Linked DNA regions of Homo sapiens. The protein of the gene in region 3 purifies or fractionates together with the protein of the main gene of each other region. This does not show direct contact. Each region holds a gene or a part of one and is shown on either strand. Other genes may lie near its edges. The genes, in order: CREB3L2, POMGNT2 and FAM83G.

Evidence for each region.
Region 1: the proteins of FAM83G (region 3) and CREB3L2 purify together in Homo sapiens (co-immunoprecipitation; one large-scale study listed by IntAct). This does not show direct contact.
Region 2: the proteins of FAM83G (region 3) and POMGNT2 purify together in Homo sapiens (co-immunoprecipitation; one large-scale study listed by IntAct). This does not show direct contact.

What each region holds. Positions count from the first base shown.
Region 1 is NC_000007.14:137,874,444-137,877,479, reverse strand, and holds the end of CREB3L2 (cyclic AMP-responsive element-binding protein 3-like protein 2), read left to right. Parts: 3' UTR 1-2,501; downstream 2,502-3,036. UniProt on the Homo sapiens protein: Transcription factor involved in unfolded protein response (UPR).
Region 2 is NC_000003.12:43,078,607-43,082,184, reverse strand, and holds the end of POMGNT2 (protein O-linked-mannose beta-1,4-N-acetylglucosaminyltransferase 2), read left to right. Parts: intron 1-648; 5' UTR 649-753; coding exon 754-2,496; 3' UTR 2,497-2,951; downstream 2,952-3,578. UniProt on the Homo sapiens protein: O-linked mannose beta-1,4-N-acetylglucosaminyltransferase that transfers UDP-N-acetyl-D-glucosamine to the 4-position of the mannose to generate N-acetyl-D-glucosamine-beta-1,4-O-D-mannosylprotein.
Region 3 is NC_000017.11:18,968,289-18,971,026, reverse strand, and holds the end of FAM83G (protein FAM83G), read left to right. Parts: coding exon of another isoform or gene 1-14; 3' UTR 15-1,604; coding exon of another isoform or gene 1,605-1,685; 3' UTR 1,686-1,869; coding exon of another isoform or gene 1,870-1,975; 3' UTR 1,976-2,238; downstream 2,239-2,738. Other genes in the region: sodium/mannose cotransporter SLC5A10, read right to left, coding at 1-14, 1,605-1,685, 1,870-1,975. UniProt on the Homo sapiens protein: Substrate for type I BMP receptor kinase involved in regulation of some target genes of the BMP signaling pathway. Also regulates the expression of several non-BMP target genes, suggesting a role in other signaling pathways.

The DNA.
Region 1 (3,036 bases), on a different chromosome or scaffold from region 3:
GGGATATTGTAAATGAAAGGCTGCAGTGCCAGTTTTAAGAAAGAATTTCTGTGAAGTGTGAGGACTCTGGAGTCTAGCTCACATAAAGAGAGTGTTATATAAAAATCCGACAGCTGAACTAGGTTGCTCTTTTTTGGCAGGGAGTGGGGATGAGATTTGACACCAATATGGGCAAAATTAGATAACCTTTTGGTTAATATAAATGATTTTGATTTGGAGGCCTAATTTGTAGATTGTGAAAGCAGCTTTTAGTTTAACTTATTCACAGACCCCTTATAATTACCATGTTTTTTTTTTTCTTCCTAAATCTCTTGGTTCAGCTTGTGAATCTTACGTGCCCGTAAAGTTGGGATGTTGAATTGGCTCTTCTTTGTTCTGGCAGTGAGTCAAGTGTCCAGCATTTTTTCATAAGTGTTTTTTAAAATTGTTCTCCAGCATTTTATGGCTCCTCCCTCCCATGTCCTCAGACCCAGCAAAAGCGTAGAGGCAGAATTAGAGGCCTCTCCAGGCCAGCTCCTCTGCCCACATGTCATACAAGGTGTGAATTTGAGCACAGTCCAGAAATGGAGACATCCCACCCCCAGTTGAATAATGGCCCATTCATGCCAACCTTGCCAACACGGAGAGGGCAGAGATGCACTAGAAGACCTTCATCCTCCCCTTCCTCTGCCCCAAGTCACTACAGTTGGTTCTATTGAAGCCAGTCTTTAAGAAACCTGGGTTAAAGACACCAGCACTTCTGCTTGCTGGGCTGGCTGGACCTGTGAAGCCATGGGCAGGTAGTGCCCTCTTGAGAGTCATTTTATTTGGCCACCTTCAGGTGAGACTATCCATAGACACATGCTAGGATAGGCCCCGCTGGGAGGGCAGTTACAGGAGAGAGTAGGTGGTGGTGACGTGAGGGCTGTGAAGGATCCAGAGACAAGACTTAGATGTTTCGTTCATTCACTCACTCATTCAGTTACTCCTAAGACTTTTCAGTTTCATAAGGAAGAGTGTTGCCTGAGGCCCTAGGGAATATTGGGGAATAGAAGGGATTGAGGAAACATTAATAATAGTTATTCAAAAGACCCAAATGCTTATACTTCTCTCTCCCTTCTTCTCTCTCTGACACACACACACACACACACACACACACACACACACACGTGCACATTCCTCCCTTACATGCTCATTTGTGCCTTAAATGTGCCTTATAGGTAAATCCAGGATGACTGAGGAATCCCTCGTCACTGGGAGATTTTGTATATATTCTTTTATTATTAGATTGAGTTGGGTGTGGGGAAAAATTTTTTTCTGAAGGCTCAAAAGTGGTTTCCTAAAAGTGAGCCACTATCAGATTTGCACATCAGGAGAAAAGAAATAGGGTTACGTCCATTAGGAAAATCCCAGTTTGCAGGAGTGCAATCACATCAAAAAAACAACCAGCCAGGATTAAAGGTATTATAAATCCTCATAGCGGAACATTTCTCAGGGCAAAGGAACCTGGCTCATTTGAAGATTAATGTTCCATGCCTTTGTGGTCAAAGGGTCAGCACTTAACACAGGAAAAAACTAGGTGTTGTTTTGTTTTGTTATTTTGGACAACATAAAATTCAGGAATGTTTTATTTAGCCTTGGTTTCTAGAAGGAAGGGAAATAATATTTCTTGAGCATTTACTAGGGTGTTGCGTGCTGTGCTAAGTAAATTTTAAGTCTTTCAGTTTTATAGATACGGAAAACAAGGGTGACTCTTTACCACAGGATGAATAAAGAACTAAGTAATATGGGAAATGCAGCAATTTCTGGACTAGCTGAGCCGATTCCTTCCTGTGAGCACACTGTAAGCTTTCAAGTTCTCTGGGCAGGAATTACAGCACCTGTCCCCTGCAATGGCCCTGCTGTGTGATGCTCATCGCTTCCCTTCGTGCTGGAGCAGTCCCCCAGGTGTCCATCTCCTATCTTTTTGTTCCAATCTTCTGTGAGTTCCAGCTAGCAGGCTTTACATCTGGGGAAAGGAAAACCAGGGGTTTTAGCTCTGTTCTCTGCTCCCATCCTTCGCTCACCAGCTGAGTGAGAACATGAACTTTTTGCACCATGTACCCATGGCTTACACTACTTAGAAAATCACCTTTTCAGATAAAACAGTTTATGAGTTCATAGAGAACACCAGCACTCTTTGACAAAACTGTGAGTGACCCTTTTTAAACAATGCTGAGCAGGCCCTGAGCTATAATCAACGGTGAGCTTTAATGTCTATGCTGACAGTTAGGTTTTGCTCTCTTTTGTAACAGGTTACGTAGACCAGCAGTGTTTAAATCTAAATACGTTGTGAGTCTGTTATCTGTCCTATCGCGTTTTTTAAATGACTTTTTATTCTTTATCATAGCTAAGTAAATACCAAAAAAAAAAAAAAGCTTTGTAGGACACTTGTACTTAGTTTGGGAAAAAAAAATAAATTGAAATTGTTATGCTTTTGTATTTCCATTTCTTGCAAATAAATATTTTTTCTTAAATAGTAAGATGTTGCCCAGTCTTTATAATCTTGGTACTAATTTGAAAAGCATGTTGTTTTTTTATGAACATGGGTTTGTGTATGTGTGCCGAACCGTTCTTTCCTGGATATCTACTTGGCCTGAAAGAAGAGCCTCAAACCAGCAATTGGTATGTTATATAGGACTGAATCCAAGCCTTAGTTGGAGGAATATTGAGAATGTAATTGTTTTTTCAGGCAGCCACGGGAAGAAAAACAGTATCCTCTAGAGACTTATGCAGCATGACTGTTATTTTTATTGTCTCCTCTAACTATTCCCTAACTAGATTTCAACTGTCTGTGGATTTGATTTTGCTTTCCCCATCTCTGGTTGCTTGAGAAAGATCCTTTGGACTTGAGCCAGAAAGGAATGATCCTTCTTCCTACGAACAGTTGCAGAGGATGTCTAACAGATTCATGCTCCAGAAATTCTGATGAAATGGTTGATAAAGGTCAGTGCACTCAAGCAGAGTAATCTTCGTTCCATTACAATGTCTGAATCCAAATGTAGCTTTCTTCACTCA
Region 2 (3,578 bases), on a different chromosome or scaffold from region 3:
GCCCCTGCAAGGGATTTTCCTATGGCCTGTCTTTCCTATGGCCTCTCTTTGTTAGCTTTTGCTGCAGCAGTGCTTCATCACAAACAGCCCCAGAATTTCAGGGATGTTTAATCAGCTGTTGCTCAGCCCTGATGTCTATGTGTTGGCTGATCTTGGCTGCGTTTGGCTGATCGCACTGCTGCTCTTGGCTGGGCCCACTCAGTCATGAGGGATCAGCTGAACTAGAACAGGGCATGGCCGGAGCAGTTCTGCTTCATGCGTATCTCGCTCCTCTTGGGGCCAGCAAGTTAGCCTGAATACATTCTTCTTATGGCAGTGTCATAAAGAGGGCAAGGCCAGCCCAAACACTTTCCAAACCTTTGATTATGTTCTGTCTGCTGACATCTCACTGGCCAAAGCAAGTTAAATGGCTAAGCCCAAAGTCGGGTGTGGGGATGCACTTTCCAACATGGAGGCGATGGGGAGGGAGAGAATATTTTAAACAATGGTCTAATCTACCACGCCTACCAATGTGCACAATGGCTGCAAGGATCCAGTGCTGTAGCGGGCACACAGAGCCTAGCTACCGTGCCTGGCACATAGCAGGAGCTTGTAATGATGCCAGGAAGACTGCCAATTCCTTTTTCTTTTCCTTCTCTCCTCCTGCAGGCTTTCACCAGTTCTCAGGATGCCCATAGGGATGGGTGAAGCCTGCCTGGCCTGTGGTGCTTCCCAGTGGCCGTCATCTCATTAGGGCCCCACAGTGGCATTAGGATGCACCTCTCGGCGGTGTTCAACGCCCTCCTGGTGTCGGTGCTGGCAGCGGTCCTGTGGAAGCATGTGCGGCTGCGTGAGCATGCAGCCACACTGGAGGAGGAGCTGGCCCTCAGCCGACAGGCCACAGAGCCAGCCCCAGCACTGAGGATCGACTACCCGAAGGCACTGCAGATCCTGATGGAGGGCGGCACACACATGGTGTGCACGGGCCGCACGCACACAGACCGCATCTGCCGCTTCAAGTGGCTCTGCTACTCCAACGAGGCTGAGGAGTTCATCTTCTTCCATGGCAACACCTCTGTCATGCTGCCCAACCTGGGCTCCCGGCGCTTCCAGCCAGCCCTGCTCGACCTATCCACCGTGGAGGACCACAACACTCAGTACTTCAACTTCGTGGAGCTGCCTGCTGCTGCCCTGCGCTTCATGCCCAAGCCGGTGTTCGTGCCAGACGTGGCCCTCATCGCCAACCGCTTCAACCCCGACAACCTCATGCACGTCTTTCATGACGACCTGCTGCCACTCTTCTACACCCTGCGGCAGTTTCCCGGCCTGGCCCACGAGGCACGGCTCTTCTTCATGGAGGGCTGGGGCGAGGGTGCACACTTCGACCTCTACAAGCTGCTCAGCCCCAAGCAGCCTCTCCTGCGGGCACAGCTGAAGACCCTGGGCCGGCTGCTGTGCTTCTCCCATGCTTTTGTGGGCCTCTCCAAGATCACTACCTGGTACCAGTATGGCTTTGTGCAGCCCCAGGGCCCGAAGGCCAACATCCTCGTCTCAGGCAATGAGATCCGGCAGTTTGCACGGTTCATGACAGAAAAGCTGAACGTGAGCCACACAGGAGTCCCCCTAGGCGAGGAGTACATTCTGGTCTTTAGCCGAACCCAGAACAGACTCATTCTGAATGAGGCAGAGCTGCTGCTGGCACTGGCCCAGGAGTTCCAGATGAAGACAGTGACAGTGTCCCTGGAGGACCACACCTTTGCTGATGTCGTGCGGCTGGTCAGCAATGCCTCCATGCTGGTCAGCATGCATGGGGCCCAGCTGGTCACCACCCTCTTCCTGCCCCGTGGGGCAACTGTGGTAGAGCTCTTCCCATATGCTGTCAATCCCGACCACTACACTCCCTATAAGACGCTGGCCATGCTGCCTGGCATGGACCTCCAGTATGTAGCCTGGCGGAACATGATGCCAGAGAACACAGTCACACACCCTGAGCGGCCCTGGGATCAGGGGGGCATCACCCATCTGGACCGGGCTGAGCAAGCCCGTATCCTGCAAAGCCGTGAGGTCCCACGGCATCTCTGTTGCCGGAACCCCGAGTGGCTCTTCCGAATCTACCAGGACACCAAGGTGGACATCCCGTCCCTCATTCAAACCATACGGCGCGTGGTGAAGGGCCGGCCAGGACCACGGAAGCAGAAGTGGACAGTCGGCCTATATCCAGGCAAGGTGCGGGAGGCACGGTGCCAGGCGTCAGTGCATGGCGCCTCCGAGGCCCGCCTCACTGTCTCCTGGCAGATCCCATGGAACCTTAAATACCTGAAGGTGAGGGAGGTGAAGTACGAGGTGTGGCTGCAGGAGCAGGGGGAGAACACCTACGTGCCTTACATCCTGGCTCTGCAGAACCACACCTTCACTGAGAACATCAAGCCCTTCACCACCTACCTGGTGTGGGTCCGCTGCATCTTCAACAAGATCCTCCTGGGACCCTTTGCAGATGTGCTGGTGTGCAACACGTAGCGAGCAGGCCACAGCCTGGCCTCGGGAAGGTGGCTCCTGCAGTTCAGCGTCCCTGGGCCCATTAATCCCACTGTGGAGACTTCTGGGAACTATTTATTGAGCAGGCCTGTGCCTCCACATCATCTTGTTGTCTCTGGGGTGTGGTGTCACAGCACTCCTCTTTGCCCTAGAGATAAGGGACCTGACTTCCCCTTCTCCCATCCTGAACATTTGTACCCCTGGAGAAGTTCCTTAGCAGGGAGGAGGAAGAGGAGAGGAGGAAGCAAAGAATCACAAGGAACCTCTGGCTAGGTGATCCTGATGTTTCCTACTGAGTTTTTCTGGTATCCAGATTTCTGGAAACCGAGTAATCATGTACTGTTTGATTGGGTGGTTCATCTGCTTCCATCCCAGTGAAATTTACCTGTAGCCCAGTGAAGGGTGTGTTTGGAACATTCATTAAATGATTCTAAGCATCTTGGTCAAGTCTTCTTATTGGATGGGAGGAAGGGGAGCTGGTCGTCAAAACCCAGGTGCCCTTTAATCTTGATTGTTAGCTAGGGAGACGTGGCAATGGGAAAGCGCCCAGGATGGCAAAGTGAGCAAGCTGGTTGGATTTCATCTTGACTAGCTGGACTAATATCACAGTTCCACCTACATGGGATAAAAGCCTAGAAGTAGGTAGGAGAGGGCTGAGGGGAGGAAGAGCTGTATCCACCATGGGTTTTTTTTTGGGCTCAACTAGACATTAAGACTCGCAAGACCTGGACAGATCATACCTGGCATCAGAGTTTCTTAGAAGGATGGAGAGAGATGCTCAGCATGCCAGCAGGGCCATGTCAGCAGTTCCCTTCCACAGGAGCAGTCCTTACATCAGTACTCCTGAGGGCCACCTTGATTCAGAAGCCCATGCCCCATAGGAGTCAATGTGTTTTCAACAACCCACAATCAGAGTTCCCAGGGTCCCTCAAGGGACATGCCCAGTTATGAGTTTCTGCACTTAGGGAAGCCTAAGGCCATGGTTTCTTACCAGATGGTATAGCTTATTCTTTGTCCTTCCAGCCCAGGTGTAGCTTATCAATCAGAGGTCAAAAACTCCCATG
Region 3 (2,738 bases):
GATCTGGTCAAAAGCTGGAGGGGTCAGGGTGGAACAGGGACAGTTTGGTGGTTGCGGGGCCCTGACTCCCTGGGCTCCCCCCTGCCTTCATCTCACAAGAAACTTCCTGATGCATCAAACTTGAGTTTTTTCCACCTCATCTTTCCCAGTGTTTGGAAAGGTGTGAGGGTAGAGGGTTGTTTTTTTTTTTAAGGTGTATTTGAATGACTATTTTATTCGTATTTAAAATAATACTATTAAGTAAGCATTTTGCACATGGGCACCCCAGTGTCCCGCTGGCCCAGCAGGAGTCACTGTTGGCCTCTGGACACTCATCGGCCTTGGGCAAGTGGTTCTCAGCCAGGTTTCCGATTGTCGATTCAAGGAAGCAAAAGTAATTTTTCTTGACATTTGAGGACCTTCCTGAGGCTTCTAAAGTGTTCATCCTGATCACCTGAAGGGTGTGATTTTAGCAGAGCTGAGAGTGGCTGGTGGTGATGTGGCCCCACCCCCTGAGGCACAGAGAAGAGGGAGACAGGTCCAGAGAGGGATGGGGCCTCCACCAAGACCATATAGACCATCTGGCGGGCTCAAGCCGGGGCTTTTTCCTCTCCAGTCCAAAACACCTCACTGTTCCTGTCTACCTCGGGGTCAGGGCCCGGCATGGCCAAGCCCTGGCCCATCTGTGTCTGTGTCACTCCCCTCCCTTCCAGACTGGGCCTGGCTGCTGGGATCCCTCTCATGCGGTGGGTCCCAGGGACACTAGAGCCCCTGGTCTGAGAGGGAGAAGCCTGGATGTAGGAAAACCCGTTTCCACCCCAGGCCCTACTCCCTAGCCTTTTCCAAGTGGGACATGGAAGAGGCAGCCTGCTGCCTGGATGCTGGTCTCCCCAGCATCACTGTTCCCATGGAGCTCAGGTCAGGCTCTGTATTCAGACCGAGGGTTTGTGTGAGGCTCAGAGCAAATGAACAAGTGCCATTCAAGGGTTAGAAACTGCTCAGCCACAGGGTCCCAGTGTCTGAGTCTGGAAGAGTCTTTAGAGATTTGTTCACTCTCTGAGGGATCCTCCTGGCTCTGCTTACATACTTCCAGGGACGGTGAGCTCACGCTCTCTCCGGGCAGCCCTGTGAGTTTCCTATCTGTTCCAGACTAGTATCGCCAATCTCTCCCAGCTCTCTTCTTTCCTCCCTGGCCTTTGTCCTGCAGGAGGTAGCATCACCTCTTGGCATTTTGTACATGCTTTTAAACAATTGGAGGAGCTGCCCAGGCAGTTTTATGGCCTCCTGGTTGTGTGCCTTCACACCCGCCTACAGCCCCACCTCACCATCAAGCGCTGAGCCAATGCGGGTGTGGCTGGCCCTGAGTTCCTGAGTCAGCTCCTTGCCAGGGCCAGAGCTGGTAACAGCGGGGCAGCAGGGTGGGTAGCCTCTACCAGCCAGGGCAGTCCCTGAGGGGCCAGCAGGGGGGCTGACTGCCTAGTGGCTCAACCTCCTGAACCCACCCACTCCCAGCGATGCTACCCAGAACCCCAACGGCATGAATCCTGCACAGTGCCGGGCAGTGCCAGACTCCAAAGGGCTCGCTGTGGGGACAGCCCCGCCATGGCCACAGACTCTGTCCTCACCTTTGATTGTCAGGATGACAGCCCCCACCACCATGATGAGCGTCTGCAGGGCGTCCGTGTAGATTACAGCAGCCAGGCCCCCTGCCAGTGGAAGCAAGGTTGCTGGAGGGGGCCCTGGCCCCAGGGAGGAGGGACACGGGGAGGAACTTCTGGGGCTCCTGCTGGGGCCACTTCCTGGGCTGCTCCCTCGGGCCTGTAGGGGGAGGTGGCCTTCTGACCCCTTTACACGTCCCCTGGGTGGACCTCCCTGCTGCAGGCACCATACCTGCGATGGTGTACAGGGCTGTGATGCCGAGCGTGAGGATGGTGGAGAGGTAGAAGTTCCAGCCCAGGCAGATGTGCACAAACAGAGCCCCCGCGTACAGGTCCAGCTGCGGAGGGAGAGAGCCTTGTGTGGGACTGTTATTCCCAGGGCTCCAGCAAGCCACTCCCTGGGTGACCTCGGGCAAGGCCCTCTCTGGGCCTCGGTGGCCTGTGGATAAGGAGGGGAGACCCCCACTCGCCTGCCTGCCTGCATCACGGGGCCATTGTGAGGTTGGGGGAAGACCTGGCCGTGGAGCTACAAGCTTGTGCGGATGTCAGGGGACATTACTGTTGCTAATAAAGTCCAAAGTGGCCAATGCCTTTCCCAAAAGCAGTGTTGTTATTGAATCTGGCCCCTTCCCGAGGGGATAAAAGGCAGAGCCCTGTCCCCTCGGTTCCCAGGGGCACCTTGATGAGTTTGTGAGGAGTCTGTGAAGACCAGTAGGCCTCAGGAAAAGTGTGTGCTGGGCGGACCAGTAGGCCTCAGGAAAAGTGTGTGCTGGGCGGACCAGGAAACAGAGGGGCAGCCTTGCTTCCTGCCCCCACCCCCCAGTGGGTTTGGAACTGAAGCCAATAGTGGCTCAGAGGCTGGGTCTCAGGCTGAAGCTGGTCTCCACACTGACTGGACACAGCCCCTGCCCTCCCAGAACCTGTGGCTGCTCCTCCTAAAGGCAGGAGCGCTAGCCTGGAGGCCAACCTCTGCCTGGCATGGGCCTCAAAGACCAGAATCCCACCCTCCACCTGGCAGTAGGGGCCCAGTGAGAGGAAGGGCAGGACCCTGTTCTCTGGGACATGGGCTAGTAACAGGCTTCACCTTGCCCCACCCCTGAG